Regions from separate parts of the Homo sapiens genome. Here region 2 is linked to region 1. Evidence: fine-mapped expression QTL. Tissue or cell type: whole blood. Region 1 holds a variant in brackets; the other region holds the start of a gene. All regions are shown on one strand. Distances are from middle to middle.

Region 1 (8,103 bases):
CAAAGCACACAAGAGCCAGCTTAAAGGGGCTCTCCCTGACCTCATCTGGGACCATTTGAGCACCAAAATAAAAAATGATGGTAAGAGATTACAACCCATTGAACAGAACAGGGCCCCATGAATCCATACAGATATAAATATGTAAGTGAAGAAAATTAAGTTCTGGGCTGGGCGCGGTGGCAGCTCACGCCTGTCATCCCTGAACTTTGGGAGGCCGAGGCGGGAGGACCACTTGAGGCCAGGAGTTCGAGACCAGCCTGGCCAACATGGTGAAACTCTGTCTCTACTGAAAATACAAAAAATGAGCCAGGCATTGTGTGGCACACGCCTGTAATCCCAGCCACTTGGGAGGCTGAAGCAGGAGAATTGCTTGAACCCAGGAGGCGGGGGTTGCAGTAAGCCGAGATCACACTACTGCACTCCAGCCTGGGTGACAGAGCCAGACCCTGTCTCAAAAAAATAAACAAATAAATAGAGAAAATGAAGGTCTGCTGAAGAATGGGCTATTGACATAGTCTCAAGTAACGCCCCTAAAGACTTAGTAATGACCGAGGAGCAAATGGAGACGTCACAGTGGAGAGGCCCGGCAGGACATCACCTCCGTCGAGCGCTCAAAGTACACAGCACCAGGAAAGGGAGACATCGAAACCTGGCAGGACGCCCTGAGAGAGAAGAGGCCAGCATCATTCCTGGGACCTTCCAGCCCAAGATGCATGACCTGAATCCACTCGGGAGAAAACACCAGACAAACCCAAAGCAAGGAGCATCCATGAAATCACCAGCCTGCGCTCTTCCCAGTAAGTGAAAGAAACGCCTGGGGAACGGATCCGGACAGAAGGAGACTCGAGAAACCAGACAAGCAAATGTAACACGTGGCCCTGAGCTGGAGTCCTCTGCTATAAAGGACATTATTGGGACAAATAAAGAAACTTCAACAGGGCCTGAGAATTCATTGTGGGTCATGTATCAGTGTGAATTCCAATTCTGACGATCCTTACCACATCGTGTAAAATACACCCTTGTCTGTCTGAAACACACACTGAAGTTTTCGGGGTGAGAGACATCCAGTCAGTCAGTTACTCTCAAATGGTTCAGGTCAAAATGAATTCTTCATACTTATACCATTTCTATAAGTTTGAAACTGTTTCAAAACAAAAAAAGAATTTCTTTCAACCTAAATCTCCCTGGAATAATAGAAAATGACTCAAGTGCTCATAAAAATGAAGGATTAAAAGAATTTTAAGGCCAGGCATGGTGGCTCATGCCTGCAAACCCAGCACTTTGGGAGGCCGAGGCAGGCGGATCATGAGGTCAGGAGTTTGAGACCAGCCTGGCCAACACGGTGAAACCCCGTCTCTACTAAAAATACCAAAATTAGCCAGGCATGGTGGCAGGAGCCTGTAATCCCAGCTACTCAGGAGGCTGAGGCAGGAGAATCACTTGAACCCGTGAGGCGGAGGTTGCAGTGAACCCAGATGGCACCAGTGCACTCCAGCCTGGGTGACAGAGCGAGACTCTGTCTCAAAAAAAAAAAAAAAAAAAGAATTTTAGACCAGTGGTTCTCAACCAGGAGGTTTTCCCCAGGGGCCACATGGCAATGTCTAGAGACATTTTTGGTTGTCCCAAGTAGGGAAGGTTACTGGCATCTAGAGGGGCTGTACAACGTCCTATAGGATAGCGCTCCACAGCAAAGAACCATCCATTCCCAAATGTCAATGGTGCCAAGGGTGAAAAATCTTTTTACAAACATCTCAACAACCACGATAAAATCCCCGTCCTACGGCTCACCCAGCACGTGGCCTTAAACGAATTACTTCACCATCCTGTGCCTTAGGCTGCTAATCTGTGCAACGGGGATAACAGTAAGTACCTCACAGGCCACCGGAGGAGTGGATGAGATCACGTGTGTGCTTTGCAAATGCCTGTCACCGAGGACACACACGGGAAGGTCGATCCACTCGAGGGCTGGTTGGTGGGCCTCTCATCGCACCTGCACGGACCACAGATCCCTGATGTGCTCACTGCTCAAAGGAACCAAGAGCACCCTCTGCCCCAGGTCTGGGATGTGGGAGGCCAAGGGGCGCACACTCCCCTCCCGTCTGCCTTTGGCCTCTGCGGGCAGTCGGAATTAGTCTAAAAGCTTGGAGGGAGCTAGAACAGCTTCTGGGCCCGGCACAGAGCCTGCAAGGAGGAAGTGCTCCGTGAAGACCATGTGAATAGATGAATGAACGAACCAATAAACCAGTGCCAATAAACCAGTGCTCCTTCCCTCCTTCACCACCCACGGCTCAGGAGGGAAAGGGGCATCCGGCCAGCTCGGTCCATTCTCACCCGGTGCTCTGTGAGCTTGCCTGTCTTGGCTTCACTTTCTGTCCATCTTGAGCCTCGGAACCCAGACCCCAAGGTCCCACCAGAAGCTAGAGGGTCAAAAACGACCTGAGATAAGATGTCCACCATTGAGTCTCAGGGCTCAGTTCTTTGTAGACCTGGCTTCTTAGGGGAAGGTGTTTTCTTTCTTTCTTTCTTTTTTTCTTCTGTAACAAAACTGCTCTCACAGAGGTTTGAAGAAAAAAAATAAACTGACGGCAATGGAAATTCTAATACTAGAAAAATGTCAAGAAAGCAAACGCCGGTTTCAATGAGACACTCAGCCTGACAGGTCATGGAAACAGGCTTGAAACTATCAAAACACAAAAACCCCCCTTGCACAGGGACCACAGTGCTTGCTTGTGAAACTCGTCAAATTCAAAACATGCCTCAGTGGACTGTGTTTTTGTGCCCAAGTCAACAGTCAGCCTATGCAAGGGCCTCTGCAAGGGTCCTGGGGAGATCAGGGGACGGGCCAGGGCCTGGCCTTAGGCTGAGCACGTGGCTCTTGGGTAGGCATTGCGATGGTGGACAGAGCTGGCAGGGGGAAGGAAGAGGGGACAGGGCTGAGCCCTTTACAAACCAAAACCCCTAGGACCAGTGCCTGAGGCTGGCTGTGCCACTGCCAGGCTGTGTGGCCCTGGGCCAGCCGTCCACCTTGCTGAGCCCTGCCTCCTCCTTGCAGAACAAAGGTCATCACTGGGGGAGTACAGGAAGCCTGTATGGGAGCCCACCTTGCAAATCAGAAACGAAGGCTCAGACGATTCCCCCATCAGAGCCCAGCACAGAGCAGGCACCCAATCCATGCCATGCAGTGCTGAGGAAGACCCTGGCCTGCCTTGAAGGGGCTGCCCAGGAGAGAGAAGGTGCTTGGCACAAGATAGCTGGGAGCCCCCTGCCCCAGGTGAGAGCTAGAAGACACACGCTGTATAGACGACCCTGCCTGGACAGGTGAGGAGGGTTCCAGCTCCCAAGGGCTGCCTGGAAGAGCTGGCCCAGAGGCTGGGCAGGGATCAGAGTGCAGGGACCAGGGAGGGGGTCAGAAGCACCCAGGACTCAGGAAGGCCTGAAGCTTCCAGGAAGGAAAAAGCCCCAGGCACAGGCCAGCCTGTCAATAGGCAGCAGCCACCGATTGCAGGCAGGTACTCCACGATGCGCTTAACAGCCCGACCTCGACGAATCCACAGGCCAAGCCTCTGAAGTAGATTCTACCATCTGCATTTTCCGGATGAGGAAACTGAGACACAGGACAATTCAGTAACTCACCCAGGGTCACACAGCTTGTAAGTGGCAGAACCAGGGTCCCTCTTGCCCCATGTGCTCCTTTCCCCTCCTGCCCCTGGGCTGACTTGCCAGGTGGTAGAAGAGGGGGAGAGAGGGGAAAGAGAAAGAGAAGGAGGGAGAGGGAGAAAGGGAGGGTAGAATGTAGAGAGGAAGGCAAGGCTGGCAGGAATGCCCCCTGGGGGTACTGGAGGAAAAAGTGACAGACAAGATAGACTTTTAAACGTTCATGCCAGCATCCATCCAGGTGCTGCTCTGGGCAAGCCACACAGTCGTCACACCCAGTACAGTCTTCACCTCATTGCATTCTCCACACGCATGAGTTTTCACCCACATTGCATCCCTACAGATGTACAGAATGCGACAGGAGCCACAGACAGGGAGCTTCGAGGCTGGGGTAGAAGTTCAGTCTCTGGAGCCCACGCCCCGGGCCCAGAGCTGCCCTGTGTTCCTCTGGCTCGGGCAGCCCCTTTGGACGGCTGGACACTCACCCACAAGCTCTAGCTTGGGCTGGGAGGTCTGGACCGGGTAGCACAGGTGGAGCTCTGAAACGACACCAGGAGGAAGGCTGGGGGTGGCGGCCTCAGAGAGCAGGAGCAGGCAGGGAAAGAACCCAGGCCAGGCTGGCAGAGAGCAACCTGTCCTCCCCAAGGCCCCAAGGACACAGCCACTTACTCTGCCGAATTCGCTTCCTGCAGGCCCTCCGGTGGCACAGGAGGAAGGCGCTGGAGCCGACCACCACAACCAACACCAGGATCACCCAGAAGAGCACTGGCCCTGGAACACAGAGACGCCCCACACTCTTTGCCTTGCTGCAACCACACAAGA[CA/A]GCCCCAGCCCCAGACGACTTCCTCCTTCTCCTGGGACACAGCTTCCATCATGGCTAACAACAACAGGTCCTTTCCAAGCCAAGGCTCTTATCTCATCCAGCCCTCCCTCGCCTGGCTCCAGGAAGCTGATCAACTATTGAAGGCTGAGAGAAGGGCAAACTGTGTCTAGAGAGTGAGAAATTGAGGCGTCTAGGAGCCAGAACAAAGGAATTGAGGTCCAATAGACCAAAATTTGGGGACTGTGGACGAGGGCCCGGTGTGACCGGCATCTGGCAGCACTGCTGGTGTGGCCGGAGTCAGGGTGGGGAGGGCCAAGCAGTGAGGGGAAGGAAGAGGTTGAACCCAGTCCCCTCCCGGCCAACCCTCTAGACCTGCTTGATGAGGGCAGGCATGGAGTCCCCACTGCACATAAACACACCCCACAAGCGTTCCCTGAATGAATGATCCCCAACCCTATGCCCTAGGCACCGTCACTACCTTCAGTTTAAAAATGAGGGGAGCTGAGGCTCACGAAAGTTCGTTAAGTTGCCCAAGGTCACCCTGAGAGTAAGTGGCAGAGCCCCAGCCCAGGCCAGGCCAGGCCGGGGGGACTGCAGGGCCACGCTCTTAACCCCTATCTAGATCTACTTCTTCACACCTCGGTACTAAACTCGCTTCGTTTTTCCCTTTTGTCACTTACAGAGATCATAGAGCTAGTGATTGCACTTTATTGAAGTCCATGTTTAGATGTTTAAAAAGTAGTATATGCCAGTTAAGTGCTTCTCAAACGTTAATGTGCACATGAGTGCCCTGGAGATCTTGTTAAAGTGCAGTTTCTGATTCTCTAGGTCTGGGATGGGGCCCATAATTTGCTTTCCTAACAAGTTCCCAGCCGGTGCCAATGCTGCCAGACGGGACCGCACTTTCAGAAACTCTGGCCGGAGCACTACTGCCACCTCGTGTCAGCCACTAGAACTGCAAGTCCTAAAATGAGTAACCTGGCATCTTTCCCTAAGAGCTAACTCTTGGGGGTTTTGTTTGTTTTGTTTTGTTTTGTTTTGTTTTGTTTTGTTTTGTTTTGTTTTGTTTGAGACTGATTCTCATTCTGCTGCTCAGGCTGGAGTGCAGCGGTGCAATCTCGGCTCACTGCAACCTTGCAACCTCCGCCTCCCGGGTTCAAGCGATTCTCCTGCCTCAGCCTCCTGAGTAGCTGGGATTACAGGCGCGCGCCACCACGCCTGGCTAATTTTTGTATTTTTAGTAGAGATGTGGTTTCATCGTGTTGGCCAGGCTGGTCTCAAACTCCTGACCTCGTGATCCACCCACCTTGGCCTCCCAAAGTGCTGGGATTACAGGCGTGAGCCACCGCGTCCAGCCTAAGAGCTAACTCTGACAGAGGCCGTCTACAATGCTACACTGCTTATAACCCTGCACGGTCTCTGCCATTACCATTGTATAGATGAGACAACTGAGGCTCAAAGGCTCGAACAACTAGTCAAAGTCATGAAATCAATCAACAAAGACCTATTTTCTGAGTAGCAATTATAAGCCACGAGGATGAAGCTGTGAAAAAAATTCCTGCCTACAAGAATTAAAGAATAGTCACTAGCAGCCAGGCGCAGTGGTTCACACCTATAATCCTAGCACTTTGGGAGGCTGAAGCAGGTGGATCACCTGAGGTCAGGAGTTTGAGACCAACCTGGACAACATGGCAAAACCCCGTCTCTACTAAAAATTAAAAAAAAATTTAGCCAGGCGTGGTGGCAAGCGCCTGTAAACCCAGCTACTCGGGAGGCTGAGACAGGAGAATCTCTTGAACCTGGGAGGTGGAGGTTGCAGTGAGCCAAGATGGGTGCCACTGCCCTCCAGCCTGAGCAACAGAGTGAGACTGTTTCAAAAAGAAAAGAATAGTCACTAGCAAGTGCCAGAGCCACAGCACCAACTCAAGAAGCCAGAAACCTGGGGTCAACCTTAATCCCCCTTCTCAGACCATACCCACAAAGGAGAAGCTCCCTCCTGGCTCCCCCAATCCACACTTCCCCAGGAGGAAGCCCCTGCTGGGAGTAGGGGTGAGTGGGCTGGGACCATTACCTGCATCCAGAACGGGCTTCCCCGTGGAGGAGAGAGCGACGGGAGCGCTGGTTGGGATGGGCAGCGTCTTACTGGCCTGGGAGTCCACCAGCAAGCTCTGAGTGGGGCTGGTGCTGCGGGGAGAAGCCCAAGGCAGGAGTGATGAAGATGGGAAGAGGGAAGTGGGTCTTCAGGAATAATTCCCTTTCTCTGGAGACTGCGCAACCAGAGCCTGGGCCCCTAGATCCTCTGCCCCGAGTCTCTGCCAGGCATTTTGAGGGCAGGGACTGGGTTTCAAGGCCTTCTGGCTTTCCAATGGTGTCAGCAAAGAGATGGGCACACATTTAACAAAAGAGCAGCCCAGGCCCCACCTCCACCCCCAGCCCAGCTGCCTCCCAGGCATCCCCTGGGCATGGCAGGGACAGCTCCCTCCTGCAGCAGCCAAACAGAGAGAAGGGGTGGGGGAGTCACCTGGCAGGCGCCTCGCCATTCTCTGGGGTGGGGTTGCAGTCCGGCTGGGTCCCCAGGGGTGGCGCCTCAAAGGTGGTGTCCTTCTCAGCCATATCTGCAGAGGGGACGTAACATCTGAGAACCAGCGCCAAGGAGGCTGGTGTCTCCAGGAAAGAGTTAACCAGCAGGGACTGGTGGCTTCCAGCGAGGCAACACCGTGGGAGCTAAGACAGTCAGATTTGTGTTTCAAAAGATCAAAGTGGAAAAGCTGGCCAGGCACATTGGCTCACACCTGTAATCACAGCATTTTGGGAGGCTGAGGCAGGAGGACCACTTGAGGTCAGGAGTTCGAGACCAGCCTGACCAACACGGTGAAACCCCATCTCTACTAAAAACACAAAAATTAGCCAGGTGTGATGGCACACACCTGTAATCCTAGCTACTCAGGAGGCTGAGGCAGGAGAATCGTTTGAACCCGGGAGGTGGAGGCTGCAGTGAGCTGAGATCATGCCACTGCACTCCAGCCTGGGCGACAGAGAAAGACTCAAAATAAATAAAACAAAGTGGAGAAGTTGCTACTTGTCTCTAACAGCTGTGGTCACCCAGGAAGGTGAAACAGTGACGCTAGACCTTTTGCTTTTAAGAGAAAACTGAAATCGCCTAATGTTTAAATACAGCCTCAATTTTTAAAGTTTTTTTCTTTTAAATCAACTTTATTAAGGAATTATTTATTTATTTATGTTTAATTTTTTGAGATTGAGTCTTCCTCTGCTGCCCAGACTGGAGTGCAGTGGCACGATCTCAGCTCATTGCAACTTCTGCCTCCCGGATTCAAGTGATTCTCCTGCCTCAGCCTCCTGAGTAGCTGGGATTACAGGTGCCTGCCAACATGCCCAGCTAATTTTTGTATTTTTAGTAGAAACAGGGTTTCACCATGTTGACCAGGCTGGTCTCGAACTCCTGACCTCAAGTGATCCGCCCACCTCAGCCTCCCAAAGTGCTGGGATCGTAGGCGTGAGCCACCATGCCCAGCCTAAGGCAACATTTATATACAAGAAAGTATCCCCTGGCAGGGTAGGGTGGCTCCCGCCTGTAATCCCAGCACTTTGGGAGGCTGAAGCAGGCA
Region 2 (8,099 bases), 63 kb after region 1:
ACCACATGGTGCCTGGATGAAAAGGATGGAGCTATGGGGGAATAAATTTTTCTCTGCAGATATGCACCAGTTAATCCTGGGTCATATTACAAAAAAACACAATTGGACAAGACAGTGATACGAAGCATCAGAGGCCAACTCTCAGATGGTGCCAGCTAGCAAGAAAGCATTCCTGCCTCAGAATACCAGGCGAAAAATGATGGCGTCTTGGGAAAAATCAAATAGAGATGAAAAAAGAACTTCAGGATGGGCACGGTGGCTCACGCCTGTAATCCCAGCACTTTGGGATGCCGAGGTGGGAGGATCACTTGAGGCCAGGAGCTCGAGACCAGCCTGACCAACATGACGAAACCCCATCTCTACTAAAAATACAAAAATTAGCTGGGTGAGGTGGCAGGCACCTATAATCCCAGCTATTCAGGAGGCTGAGGCAGGAGAATCACTTGAACCCAGGAGGCAGAGGTTGCAGTGAGCTGAGATTGCGCCACTGCACTCCAGCCTGGGAGACAAAGTGAGACTGTCCCAAAAAATAAAAAAAAATTTAGGCCGGGGGCGGTGGCTCACGCCTGTAATCCCAGCACTTTGGGATGCCGAGGTGGATGGATCTCCTGAGGTCAGGAGTTCAAGACCAGCCTGGCCAACATTATGAAACCCCATCTCTACTAAAATACAAAAATTAGCCAGGCATGATGGCAAGTGCCTGTAATCCAAGCTACTAGGGAGGCTGAGACGGTAGAATCACTTGAACCTGGGAGAGGGTGGTTGCAGTGAGCCAAGATCGTGCCACTGCACTCCAGCCTGGGCAGCTGAGGGAGACTTCATCTCAAAAAAAAAAAAAAAAATTTTAAACTCAAGGAAATTCAAGCCCTAATTTGGGATTTTTTTTTTAAAATAACGAGCTTCCCGAACCTTTACTGGAAAAAACAGAAGTGGGAGAAGGCTTGAGGGGCAAAAAGGAGTACTGTGTTGGGCAGGTAGTCCCTTCCCCAAGGACTCCCTGACTCCTGCCAAGAAATGACCTAGTGCCTGAGCCCAGAGAGATGCTCAGCTTCCCCGGTAGGCGAGAAATGCAAATTAAGGCAACAAGGATATAACCCTTTTCACTAATCACATTGAGAAAAATTAAAATGCTGATAAGATCAAATGTCGGTTAGGATGTGGGAAAGTTACTACTCTCTTGCACTGCTAGCGGGAGGGTAAATTGTCCAGCCACCCTGGAAGGCAGTTCGGTGGTGTCTTTTAATTTGAATGCATTTTCGCCCTGCAACCTCAGTATTCTCTTCTCAGTCTCTTGTCTAGGAAAGAATCACAGACATTTATTTCCAAAAGCATCCATATAGGGCTGTGCACTGTAGTAGAGAACAAAGAAAGAAAGAAAGAACAATGGTGGCAACCTTAGCACCCATCCATCCAGGACATAAATAAACTATGAAACATCCCATTTGGCAAAAGATCACATAGCATTTTAAAAGATAGGCAGAGGATCTGTAAGTTTCAGCATGGAAAGCTCACCAAGATGCCTCATAGACATTATAAAGCCAAATGAAGAACCATATGTACTGTAGGGTATAGTATATGGAAAACTATATATATGTCTATTAAAACAATATAAATATGGACATGCATTTATAAAGGTCTGCAAAGGAAACACACCAAATCAATTATGGTGGTTATATCTTTGAAGGGATCAGGATGAGGCGGTGTCAAAAGACTTGGCTTTATCTGTAGCGTTTACAGTTTTGCTTTGAGAATATATTTATATATTCCTTGTGCAATTAAATATATAGTATTTTTATTTTAAAAAGGGTATGGGAGGCTGGGTGTGGTGGCTCATGCCTGTAACCCTAGCACTTTGGGAGGCCGAGACGGAAGGATCACTTGAGGTCAGGAGTTCGAGACCAGACTGACCAACATGGTGAAACCTCATCTTTACTAAAAATACAAAAATTAGCCGGGTGTGGTGGCACATGCCTGTAATCCCAGCTACCTGGGAGGCTGAGGCAGGAGAATCACTTGAATCCGGGAGGCAGAGGTTGCAGTGAGCCGAGATCGAGCATTGCACTCCAGCATGGGCAACAAGAGTGAGACTCAGTCTCAAAAAAAAAAAAAAAAAAAAAAGGTTTGGTATGAGAGTTCAGGCTGTAGTGAGTTATGATCGCACTCCAGCCTGGACAACAGAGTGAGACCCTGTCTCTAACATTAAAAAAAGTGGAGGGGGCTTCACTCTACAGAAAGGAAGCACATGAGCTTCAGCTGCCAAACCAAACCAGCAAAGCCCCCCAAGCACCTCTCACATCTCTTCCTTCCCTTCATCTCCCCAAGACCTTGGCACTCCAAACTCTTACCTTCCCCCAGGTGAGGGCTTGCAGAGCTGGGACAGGGTGTCTCTAGCCAGGGCTTTGTCCCCTCTGCCCTCTTGGGGGGAAAGGGGGAATACCTCACATTGCCCATTGGAAATGGAAGAGGGCATAGTTCCTCCTTTGCTGCATAGTTCCTCCCTCCTGCCTAAAGCCCACTCTGCCACTCTCCTCCCACTGCCTAAGGTTCAGATGACTAGAATTGATCCATAGCATGGAGTCCTCTCTTCCTGTAGGATTAAAGGGGAACTGGGTCTTCCCTCTCCCCCACCGTGACCCACCGCTGGACTAACAGCCTGCTCCTTCCTTTCCCTCTGTATCATTCAGCAGGCATCCACTCGCACCTACTATGGTTCTATGCAGGGGTCCACCGGGGTCCTGGGTCAGCTGAGGGCCTCTCTCTCCAGCAGCCCCTGGGCTCCGTGAAACACGCCTGGTTACTTTGCATTCTCCCCACAGTGATTAATTTGGCGCTGGCCACTGGTAAGTGCTCAGTTTTCCTAAAGCAGTCCCCAAACTCAATTCTGAGGCAACCCACCATAGACTTCAGCCCCACCACTGACCTTCTTCCAGGGGCAAATGCCCACCACGTGCTCCAGCGAATTCAATCCACAGCGTTGCTTTGCCGGACGCGGATTGGGGAAGCTAATCCCGGTGGTCCTGCACCCTCACCCCACTCTCACCCACAGCCAACTCTCCCTCCTTTCCTTGACCCTCCAGCCAGTGGCCAGCTTAGGAAGGGGGCAAACGGGACCGCGCACACAACAGGGTAGAGCGCGGACGACCAACCTCCCATGGCTAAGGGAGGCCCCATCTGGCCTGCCCACTACTCCCACGGCCTCACCTGATCTGCCCAGGACCCCGACGGGCCCGCAGGTAGGCGGGCTAAAGAGCGCCTCCCGCGTATGGCAGTGCTCTCAGTCCAATTCACACTGAATGAATGAATCAGTCCCAGCCATCGCGGGGTGAGAAGGAGGCGCCCCCCACCACTAGCCCTTCAGCCAGCCTCCCACCTGTGGGTGCTAGCATATTCCGGTGTTCCTGCTTGTCACCCGCGCCCCCTCACTCCAGCTGGGCAGGGAACGGGGTGAGGAGTGTCCTCCCTTGCGTCCCACGCACCCCACACTGTCCGGGCTCTGGACCGCCGGCACCTCCCCAGGCGCCCGTCACCCGCTTACCTGTGGGAAGGCTCGTAGCGCCCCCAGGAACAGCAGTCCCAGCGCGGCGAGGAGGACGCGCATCCCCGGGGCCGGACGTGAGGTGGCCTGGCGGCCGGCGCCCACCTGGGAAGCGGGGGAAGCGCGCGGCGCCCACGTGCGGTCCCGGCGGTTCTCAGCCGCGCGCGTGGACTTCAGGCTCCAGCACACTCCCGCCGCGGCCACCTAGTCCGCACCCAACGCACGCCGCGAAGTCACTTCAAAAGTGGTTGTTCCTCCGAGGTTTCAGCCTTAGTTCTCCCGTATCAAATTGGTTCCAGGAACACTTAGCTACAAGCAGCGAAGAAAAAAGGGGGCAAACACGTGCAGAGATGACTCAGGAAAAGGCACACTAGGAGACGCCTCCCTTAGCTGTTTGAATGGCCCGCCCCGGATTTGACGGAACTAGTGGTCCTGGCTCTAGGGAGTGTGCTGCCCGCCGCACCTGGGCTGCGGGGAGCGGAGGCAGGCAGCTTCTGGCCCTGGAGGTGGGGACTCACAGGATATTAGGAGGCCCCAAGGGGGTTCCAATGCCCCCACCTCCACTCCTGCCCCAAGAAACGGTGAAATGTGAGTAGTTTCCTGTCCCTGACACGATCAGCCAGGACCTTCTCCCATGCCCTTGAGATTCTTTGGAAGGGACAACTGGCCTAGGGAGACTGCAGAAAAAGCAACCATCACCCACCCATCCCCATTCATAAGCATTTGCTGTAAAATGAATCAGTGAGTGGATGATAAATTGGTGGATGGATGGATGGATGGATGGATGCATAGGTGGATGGATGGATGGATGGATGGATGGATGGATGGATGGATGGATGCATAAGTGGATGGATGGATGGATGGATGGATGGATGGATGGATGGATGGATGCATAGGTGGATGGATGGATGGATGGATGGATGGATGGATGGATGGATGGATGCATAAGTGGATGGATGGATGGATGGATGGATGGATGCATAAGTGGATGGATGGATGGATGGATGGATGGGTGAGCAGCAGGTGAGTGGGTAAATGGGTGGGTGGATGGGTGGATGGATGGATGCATAGATGGATGGATGGATGGATGCATAGGTGGATGGATGGATGGATGGATGGATGGATGGATGCATAAGTGGATGGATGGATGGATGGATGGATGGATGGATGGATGGATGGATGGATGCATAGGTGGATGGATGGATGGATGGATGGATGGATGGATGGATGGATGCATAAGTGGATGGATGGATGCATAAGTGGATGGATGGATGGATGGATGGATGGATGGATGGATGGATGGGTGAGCAGCAGGTGAGTGGGTAAATGGGTGGGTGGATGGGTGGATGGATGGATGCATAGATGGATGGATGGATGGATGCATAGGTGGATGGATGGATGGATGGATGAGCAGCAGGTGAGTGGGTAAATGGGTGGGTGGATTGGTAGATGGATGGACTGAATGTTGGAGGAACTGATGGATGGTATAGATCATTTTATTTCCCTGAGGCCTGACCCTTTAGAGTTTTCTTCCTGGAGGAGGCGGCTGGCACTCTCTCCTAACAGAAATGATTCAAGCCTCCTCGTACTATGTTCTCATTTGCTGGTGAATGATTTTCCCTTCCAGTGCTTCCCCATCCCCTGGGTTTTCTCTTTGCTCCTTTTATTCCACATTCCGTGTGTCTGTGTTGAGCATCTGCTGGGTGGGCCACAGGTCAAGGGTTCTTTTGACTGATTTTGTTTGGTTTTCAGATGTGAAAGCCAAGGCTCAGAAATAGGCAGGCAGTCCTAGGTGCTCTAATTAAGGGTGGGCCAGTTATTTTCCCTGAGCCCAGAATAGCCTAAGGATACTCTGGCTTCTGTGTCTACCTTGATCTGTCCTGCGAGGTACCAGGCCTCCATCAGGTGAAGGCCCTATAGGGTAGGAGTGATAACCTCCCACCAGGAACTTCCCAGCAAGGTCTCCACAACTGACCACTCCATGCTCAACCCTCCTGGGGCTGCTGGACTCCACTTGGGAAAACTGCTCCATCATGCCCCTTCCCAAGAGACCCACTTCCAGACTCTCCTCTGGATGTACCAGGCCCAGTATCTTAGGCTGTTTGAGCTGGGACTATGTTAAACAATGAGGTAAGCAATTATGGAAGTGACCTGCCTGTGATAATGACAGAACCAGACAGGGACAGGAGGAACGCAAGACACCTGCTTCCCAGTCCAGAGCTTTCTACTACAAAAGTAGAAAAGCTGGCAGCTGGGTGACATGGCTCATATCTGTAATCCCAACACTTTGGGAGGCCGAGGTTGGAGGATCACTTGAGCCCAGTTTGAGACCAGCCCGGGTAACGTAGCAAGACCTCATCTCTATTTTTTGTTTAATTAAAAAAGAGAGAGAGAGAAGGGCTGGTGTTTTGAATAAATAAATGAACAACAGCATCAAAATAGCTTGCACAAGGAGAAATACAAATAAAAATCAATTACAAGTTTTATAAGTTTAACCTTTTTAGTAATTAAAGAAATGCAAATTCAAGCAACCTTTGATAACCTTTTAGATCTATACAATCATCATTTTTTTTTTTTTGCTTTATAAAAACAATTTTGGTAAATCCAACCCCAAAGTTGTGGTGAGACCAGAATACTCATTCATACTCTGCTGGTAAATGTTACAACCCTTTTCAGAAAGCAGTATGGCAATTTTTAGCAAAAGCCAAAAAAAAAAAAAAATGTGTACTACTTGTGAGTGGCTCAGTAATTTCACCTCAGTGAAGAAAAACTAAGGAAATAATTTAACTGGAAAACTAGAAAAAGAAAAAAGAAAACTATACAGTAACATTTCCTTATATATTATTTATAAATTTTTGAAATACTCTGAGATTCACAACAAGAAATGATTACGGAAATTGTGGTACATCCATTTAATGGAATATTGCACATCCATTAAAAAGGATAAATCTATAGATGTTGTGGAAACTTGTCTCTCCCTCATATCCTTCCCTCCATGGATTTCCAAAGAGACCTTTCTAGCACACACATCTCACCAAGACACTCCCCTGTAGAGAACCCTTGCGGAAGTATGGTGTGTGTTTTGGCAGAGGACCACGTAGAAAATTATATTATTCATTTAATGATAACAATAACAGCTACCTTTGAGTGCTTATTTTGTGCTAAGAGTTTTCAGGCATTGGTTTCTTGTATCCTCATGAAAACCCCATGAACAAGGTCCTACTTTTATGCCCATTCTGCAGGAAAGGAACCCCTGCAGTGGCTCCCCTGGGTCAGAGTCACCCAAATGCAAGGGTGCACAAGTCTGCTCACAGCCTGGCAGGGGCTGACTCCTCCCTTGTGCCTTTTTACTTCTCCTGGACCTATACTCCAGCCAAATGTGCAGCCTTCTCACCCCTGCCAGCCTTTGCCCACGCTGGCCTCCACCTGGGACGCACACAGACTCCTGATCATCTTCCTAACCTGTTCCAATGCCACCTCCTCCTTGTTGCTTTCCTGGCAGTGTCTCCTGTCCCCCAGCCCTCTTCCCAGTCAAAAAGTGGTTTCTGTCATTTTTTGTGCCGCAATTCTAGATCTGATCTCATCATGTCATAACCATAATGACTGGTTCATGCATCCCTCTGCCCCAGGAAACTGTGTACTCCTGAGAACCAGAATTCCCCCAGGGCGCCCAGGAAAGTAGCTGACACATGGCTTAAGTGGAGGGAAGGCACATTTTGTGGCCAGGGAGCCAGCTGGATCCCAGGGGGAGATGGGCTGGTAGCAACCAAGGAAAACAGCCATTCATGGGACTCTTAAAAGCAGGCAGTGGATAGAGCCCCCGGGTGCCCTCGGCAGGTTTCAGGTGGTATGAAAGTGCTGTGAAGAGTAGAAGGGGAAGTCCCTAGGCTCTGTGCAAGGCACAGCAGCAGTCCTTGTTGTGGGGTCGTGGGGCCCTCCAGAGCAAGCTGTGGAAGGAAGCCAAGCCCGAGGGGCTACAGGAGACTGGGGAGCGAGGAGCGCTTGCTCACACAGTCTCAGCTCGGTGGGCTTCTTGGAGGAAAGGTGAGGAAGGTGAATGCAGTAGGAAGCCATCCAAGGGGAATTGGGAATCTGTGTCCCCAAAGTGATGCTGAGCAAGACACAAGGTCCCAACTTGGTTCAGGAAATTCAGGGACTTCCTCCAACAGCTGGGAACCCGAGTCCCAAATGGCCCCAAAATACCCTTAGCAGATAAAGGGTTCTTTCTGGCCCAGGCAGCAGCTGGCAGGTAGGAGGCTGGAAATCAGAGAGGGGAGGCTGGGGCCTTTCTTCTTCAATAGGTCCAGGTGCACCTTTTCTTTCTTTCTTTTTTTTTTTTTTTGAGATGGAGTCTCACTCTGTTGCCCAGGCTGGAGAGCAGTGGTGCAATCTCGGCTCACTACAACCTCCCCCTCCCCAGGTTCAAGCGATTCTCATGCTTAGCCTCCCGAGTAGCTGGGATTACAGGCGAGCATCACTGCACTCAGCTGATTTTTGTATTTTTAGTAGAGACAGGGTTTCACCATGTTGGCCAGACTGGTCTTGAACTCCTGACCTCAAGTGA

Evidence for each region. PIP is the estimated chance that this variant, and not a neighbour inherited with it, causes the effect.
Region 2: TNFRSF8 starts here. The variant in region 1 is fine-mapped to the expression of TNFRSF8 in whole blood (TOPMed, PIP above 0.99).

The regions. Positions count from the first base shown.
Region 1 is chr1:12,122,273-12,130,375 of GRCh38, reverse strand. TNFRSF8 (TNF receptor superfamily member 8) reads right to left here. Exons shown (of 15, transcript NM_001243.5): 9 at 6,999-7,092; 10 at 6,549-6,661; 11 at 4,324-4,425; 12 at 4,140-4,193. Among named protein-coding and RNA genes, the nearest start is that of MIR7846, 41 kb to the left of the region's middle. The variant CA/A (reference allele first, on the strand shown) is at 4,477.
Region 2 is chr1:12,059,098-12,067,196 of GRCh38, reverse strand. TNFRSF8 (TNF receptor superfamily member 8) reads right to left here and starts at 3,894. Exons shown (of 15, transcript NM_001243.5): 1 at 3,536-3,894. The coding sequence starts at 3,598. RefSeq lists silencers at 3,502-3,631, 4,219-4,451.